2 linked regions of the Homo sapiens genome follow. Changing the gene in region 2 together with the main gene of any one other region gives a genetic interaction. Each region holds a gene or a part of one and is shown on either strand. Other genes may lie near its edges. The genes, in order: DEPDC5 and DAZAP1.

The links.
Region 1: changes in DAZAP1 (region 2) and DEPDC5 together harm fitness more than expected from each alone (negative genetic interaction), as found in Homo sapiens cells (one large-scale study listed by BioGRID).

The regions. Positions count from the first base shown.
Region 1 is NC_000022.11:31,903,752-31,906,325, forward strand, and holds part of DEPDC5 (GATOR1 complex protein DEPDC5), read left to right. Parts: intron 1-2,232; coding exon 2,233-2,315; intron 2,316-2,453; coding exon 2,454-2,574. UniProt on the Homo sapiens protein: As a component of the GATOR1 complex functions as an inhibitor of the amino acid-sensing branch of the mTORC1 pathway.
Region 2 is NC_000019.10:1,424,277-1,428,093, reverse strand, and holds part of DAZAP1 (DAZ-associated protein 1), read right to left. Parts: intron 2,217-3,817; coding exon 2,134-2,216; coding exon of another isoform or gene 2,133-2,133; intron 1-2,132. UniProt on the Homo sapiens protein: RNA-binding protein, which may be required during spermatogenesis.

The sequences.
Region 1 (2,574 bases), on a different chromosome or scaffold from region 2:
CTGTTCCACACCTGTCAGAATCTTCCTCCAGGGATTCCCAAATGTTTCCTCTCTGAATTCCTCTTTCCCTTTCTTTCAAAACACTCTGAATGTATTCCAGTGACTTGGGGGCCCTTGGAGGGCAGGGGTATGCTTTTTCCTATTTGTGTTTCCTTCTATAATGCCTAGCAAGGTGCCTGCCTAGAGTAGTTTCATATGTAGCTTTTGCATAGGGTGGAGCTTTAAGTGCAACTGTGGCTCTAAATGACACATCAGCCCACCCATAAGGTCCATCTCAGAAAGAGCTAAAAAAGTGTCCATCTTCCTCAGCCCCTAGGCTGTGACCTACAGCTCCTCCTTCATCTTCCTCAGCCCCTAGGCTGTGACCTACAGCTCCTCCTTCATCTTCCTCAGCCCCTAGGCTGTGACCTACCGCTCCTCCTTCATCTTCCTCAGCCCCTAGGCTGTGACCTACAGCTCCTCCTTCATCTTCCTTGGGGCAGGTGGAGATGATTATATCCCCTCCCCTGCCCTTACTGCGTTTCTGTCTTGCATTCTCCCTGAGTGGACAGTCAGGTGGCCAGGAACCATGTGGTTAAATTGCCTTTTTGTTCTTTCCTGGTGACCTAAGGAAGAAATGAGGTAAAAAAAAATTACTCTGGTAAAAAAAAATCAGGCTGATCCATGCTGAGGAAATCAGTAGCCTTAATTAGAAAGTAGAGAGAAAGCAGGCTGGGTGTGGTGGCTCACGCCTGTAATCCCAGCAGTTTGGGAGGCCGAAGCAGGCGGATCACCTGAGGTCAGCAGTTCAAGACCAGCCTGGCCAAAATGGTGAAACCCCGTCTCTACTAAAAATACAAAAATTAACTGGTCATGGTGGCGCGTGCCTGTAATCCTAGCTACTTGGGAGGCTGGAAGCACAAGAATTGCTTGAACCCGGGAGGTGGAGGTTGCGGTGAGCCAAGATTGTACCACTGCAGTCCAGCCTGGATGACAGAGCAAGAGTAGAGAGGATTTTGCAAAGGCAAAATCCAGAGCCAATCCTCATCATATAATCAGCCTGTAGACAGGGAGCTTACAGTGCATAGTAGCCTACCCATTTAGTTTGCATATTTGACTTCATGTATTCTTTGGTAAAAAATTATGGAATGCAGATTATGTAGAGGATACAACACAGCACCTCCCCAAGGAACTCAGTCCAGGAAAGAAGACAGGCATTTTCCCTTCTTTAGTTCTGCCTACATCACTGTCTCCATTATATAAACCCCTCAGACTTAGAGGGCAGGAGCCACATCTGTTACCACGTCCTTTACAGCTCTTAGCAGGTAGAACTGTAATAAATGTGCCTTATGGAAATAGAAAAACCAGGAATAGAACAAGCCATAGATGAAAAATGGCTCCTCCTGCCCATTTCCAGAGCACAGGGAAGCAGAGAGCCCCAGCTTGGCGTTCCTCTTTTTTTTTCTTTTTGAGATGGAGTCTCGCCCTGTCACCCAGGCTGGAGTGCAATGGCATGATCTTAGCTCACTGCAGCCTCCGCCTCCCGGATTCAAGTGATTCTCCTGGCTAATTCCAGAACAATCCTGGCTAATACAAAAATTAGCCAGGCATGGTGGCACATGCCTGTAATCCCAGCTACTCAGGAGACTGAGGCGGAGAATCACTTGAACCCAGGAGGCAGAGGTTGCAGTGAGCCGAGATCATGCCATTGCACTCCAGTCTGGGCAACAGTGCGAGATTCCCTCTCACCAAAAAAAAAGATAAGGACCTTCCCTGGAGGAATGGATAGCCTCGAGTATGCGGGTGGGTATGTGTGGCCTGTCAAGACATGAGGTAGATTCCAGTGAGAGGCCCAGGATGGGATGGGGGAGAACGCTCAGTGGGAAGGTCTGCTGGGATGGGTAGGGAACATGGTAGGAGGGACGGGCTGTCTGAGCAGAGATGAAGGCTGGATGAAGAGTGCAGCCGGTGGGAAGGCTTTCTTTCACTATGGTGGTAGTGACATGGTGGACCACGGAGATGACGGGCTGCTGGGTGTGAGGAGGTCTGGTAAGCCATGGTGTTGGAAGAGGTAGAGGTCAGAAAGTGGTGAGGGTGAGGACAAAAATAAGCAGCCTGCATGTGCAATCTGGAAAGAGATCTTTCCAGATCTCTGTGTCTCAGGCTGTCCGAGAGTCCTATCAGCTACATTCTCTTCCCTTGCCCCTTTAACTAAGGAGGCGCTGATTAGCATGTCTTCCTGTCCTTCCCTAGGTTTGGGTTTGTACAAGATAAATATTCTGCCTCTGCTTTTAACTTCCCTGCTGAGAACAAGCCTCAGTATATCCACGTTACAGGTGAGGAGCTACGGGCAGAGTTGGGCAGGTGGGTCCACATCCCTTTCCTTGCACCAAGCCTATGGCTGCAGAACCACCTCAGCAGGCTCCAGGAGCCCTCCTGGTGGCTGCCACACAGGCGCTCCCCTTTCTCTTCAGGAACAGTGTTTCTGCAGCTGCCCTACTCCAAGCGCAAGTTCTCAGGGCAGCAGCGGCGGCGGCGGAACTCCACCAGCTCCACCAACCAGAACATGTTCTGCGAGGAGCGGGTCGGCTACAA
Region 2 (3,817 bases):
GGCCGGGGACAATGGATGGAGCAGGCCTGACCTACTTATTCTAGGCGCAGTGGCTGACCTTCCTTTAATGCCTGCTTGAAAATATGGGTGGACTAACAACAGAAAGATCCCCCCAATTCCGGGGCTGCCTCAGCATTTGAGAATCCTGAATTTGTCTCACTTTTCTGATAAATCGTAATGAGAATAAAGAGACAATGGATCCACCTGGAGTCAGCCTTGGGGTCTCAGTCTGGAGAGCTGCACATCCTGAGTTCAGAATCCCTCAGTTCTGCCTGTTAGAGAACAGACAGCAGCAGCCACAGAGGCACAAAGCCCCCACCTGCCCAATGCCCCAAGGACCGGCCTATGATGGGAACAGGATCCGTTAGCTCAAGGCAATGTGACAGCAGGACCAAGGGACCCATTTCAAAGAACTCAAATGAGCGAGTCTTCACACACCCTCCTCAGGGGACTGCGGTTCCTGCTTACAAAGCAGAGCGGTCCTTGTACTTTAAAAAAACAAAAACAAAAAAAAATTCTTTCACCCTTTCCTACCTGAATGCAGCAATGCAGTCGCCTGGCATGGAGGGTTAACTACCACGCGGTACCAAACACTCCACAAACGGAAAACCCCCATGAGGGGCCGGCGGCGACGCCAAGTGCCGCTCCAGCCAACCAGTGAAGGCCGGCGCCGGGCAAGCTGGACTCCAACGACTGTCTGGCTTGGAAGGCGAGACCCACACTGAGGTCGCCCAGCTCAGGAGCTCGCGCAGAACAGTCATGGCTGGGGGGACCCAGGGGCTGCCCAGGGACGGCAGCAGGTGTGTGCACTGTACAGAGCTCTTTCTGCCCCGTATATCAAGACCACGCTTTCCCCAAATTGTCAGTGTCGTAGTCCCTTAAAACACTGGGCGCAGACTCCTTGAAGCCCTGCTTGTACTGTCGCGCACCCATGCAGCCGGCAGGCTCATTTTAAACCACAAGCTGCACTCGATGTCAGAACAAGGATTGTGTCTCCTGTTTTAGTTGGGTTCAAATGGAATTAATGAAGTCTGCAACCCAATCTAAGCCACGTGTATACAAAAATAACTACACATGCTACTGTTTTTAAAAAAGTTCTGCTATCAAGACCTCTGGCTGGGGTAGAGGGCAGGGGCAGGAGATAATGAGCACGATGCTCCCTCCAGGACATTTTAATTGAAAAAACAACCATGGCCCTGTCAGAGGGGCTAAGCGTCTTCTTCCGTTAACGGGAGAAGCTGCCGCACCAAGGAGGCCGGGTCAGAATCCCACTGGGCATGTGAGGCGGCCTGGCAGAGCCAGCAGAGCTCCTTGGTTTGAAAGGACCAAGACAGGAATCCTGCAAAAACCTGGACCCCTAAGCTTTTGCTAACTGCAAGAAATTCCACACTGTAGAATTTCTACCAGTTATTTATTTCAGAGTCCACTTCTCAAGAACCTCCAAGGGTCCAGGTAAAACAAGGATTTAGGGACCCCTTTCTGACACATGCCTTCCAAGGGCTGGCCTGGGGGTTGGGGGGGTGGCCTCCTGTCCCTCTCACCTCCGGGGGTAACACAGTATGAAGATGACACAACCAGAGGTCACTTGACTGCATGGTGGCTGAGTACTACCGAGAGCATGTGGCTGGTGCCGGAGTTCCACAGTAAGTGACCCAATTCAAACAACCAGTCCTTCATGATGTTTCCACTGTGCTTTCCATTTTAAGCGGAACCTCGGCTCTCAAAGGTCCCTTGCTGATCACATTACAGGTCAGTGTCAGACAATGGGGATTTGCAGACATCTGAAGGAGTGGTCGTGGAAACCAAGCCTGAGGCAACGCTGCGGTTTCACTGGAGCCAGCCCCAACACCGCCACAGCCTCCCAGCCCCAGCCCCCTACCCGCCCAGTCCCAGGTCACCCAGAGGGAGGGGCTCCAGGAGCAAAGCTGAGAGATCCCCACCCCGCAGGAAGGGTGCTGGGGAAGGATGGGACCCTCCTCACGTCTACAGACCCAGGCCCACCTCACGCAGCAAAGGTTCACAGGACGAACTCGCCCGACCCTTTCCGTGAAGGAATGTTCCTTTCCAGTGAAACCCCTAAGTTGCCTAAGACTTGGTTTGGTCTTAAGGTAAAATAAAACTACAACTACACACTTTTTTGCCCATGATGTCGTGAAAATGCATGTTGACAGCCTGGTCCACTGATTGTTCGTCCTCGAAAGTAATAAATCCAAAACCTAGCCAACGACGAAGAGTGAATCAAGGTAGCAGGGTGTTGTGACACAAAACAGGATGATGAACAGTATTAGGGACGGGCCGAGGGATCGACCTTGGGTTTCAGCTAAGCTGTGTGTGGGGCGCTGCGGGCCCCTGGGGCAGCTGCCTCCCTCCCCAGGAGCCACCACTCGACTGCACACGGAGTGGACAGACGGTGACGTCCGCACTCCCGGTGACGGCTCTGCTGACTGAGGCCTGAGTCAAGCCTCCGCCCCAGACACCCCGGGCTGGGGCTCCGTGTCACAAAGATTTGGAACAAGGAGCACATCTTATAAAACAGCAGCGGAGACAGGGGAACGGTGAGGGCCTCCATCGCTACTGGCAGACAAAGCGCCCCCCAGGGGAGGGTCAGAGGCCCGTGCTTGAATATTCTGGCTCTCGCCTGTGGGGAGATTGCCAGTGAACCCTGCAGGCCGGGGGCCCGCGTGGAATGCGCCATCTTAGTCAGGGGTGTGCACCGTGGATGTGTGTATGCTTCTCTGAAACCCAGGATTCTCCCCCTTGGCTTGCAATTTGCTTTGCAGCTAGTGCTGACAGCAGCCATATATCGTTCTAAAGCGTTAACAGATACAGTATCTATCATAGCTGGTGCCTCGCTAGGCTTACGCAACACCGTTGGGTAAGCCCAAGGAGTCCTAGAAGAGGTCATATCGTAGACATCTATGCATGTTCTATACAGGTAGAGAAACAATGCACAAAGATACAGGCCACAACGGGTTCCAGCAGGTCAGACTCTGCTGCCAGCAGCAAGAGCGAGATGCACCATGGGATCAAAACAGAAAATTTTAAAGGCAAAAAAAATTTAGCATTTCCCAAACACAAGAGTGGCAGTATAAACGAAGTTTAGTGGGTCTGGGGTGGGCGCGGCCCCCGGCTAACGGGGCGGGTCTCCTCCTCTAGGCGCAGGAGTGCGCCGGGCTCTCCAGGCCTCCCCGGCTAGGTGGAGCGTGACACCGCAAAGCACACCGTCCTCCCGAGGCGGGGCCCAGGCGGCACCAGCCCCTCCCCAGATGGAAGTGCCCGGCAGACAGCTGCCCAAGACCTCACAGAACAAAGATGGACATGGGAAGAGCTGAGACCGGGCTGAAGATGGGCTGCCCGCGCCAGAGGCACAGGGTGCGTGACAAGGCACCACACAGCAGGGGACAGCGCAGCACGGGCGTGAGGCGTGAACGAGCGCGGCAGAGAAGGGCCGTGGGGGGTGGGAACAGGCAACGGCCCCCGGAAGGAGCAGCCTACTGTGGGGCCTCTCAAGCTGAAGAGACAGGGGCCAGGGCTGCTGTAGCTGGGACCAGGCAGAAACAGGACAAGCAAAACTGGGGGCGGGGAAAGATGGAAACGGGGCAGAAAGGGCAGCTCAGACTGTGAGGGGACAAAGGTCACTGTGGTTCAGGAGCCTCCCACCGTCCTGAGCACACGTGTGCACCTGAGCGTGACTGTGCACGCAGTGTCTGCAACCAGACGGAGGGGGAGGGGGGAGGGGGAGGGGGAGGAGGAGGGGGAGGGGGAAGAGGAGGAGGAAGAGGAGGAGGGACCAGGAAGGCAAGGCACACAGCGAGAG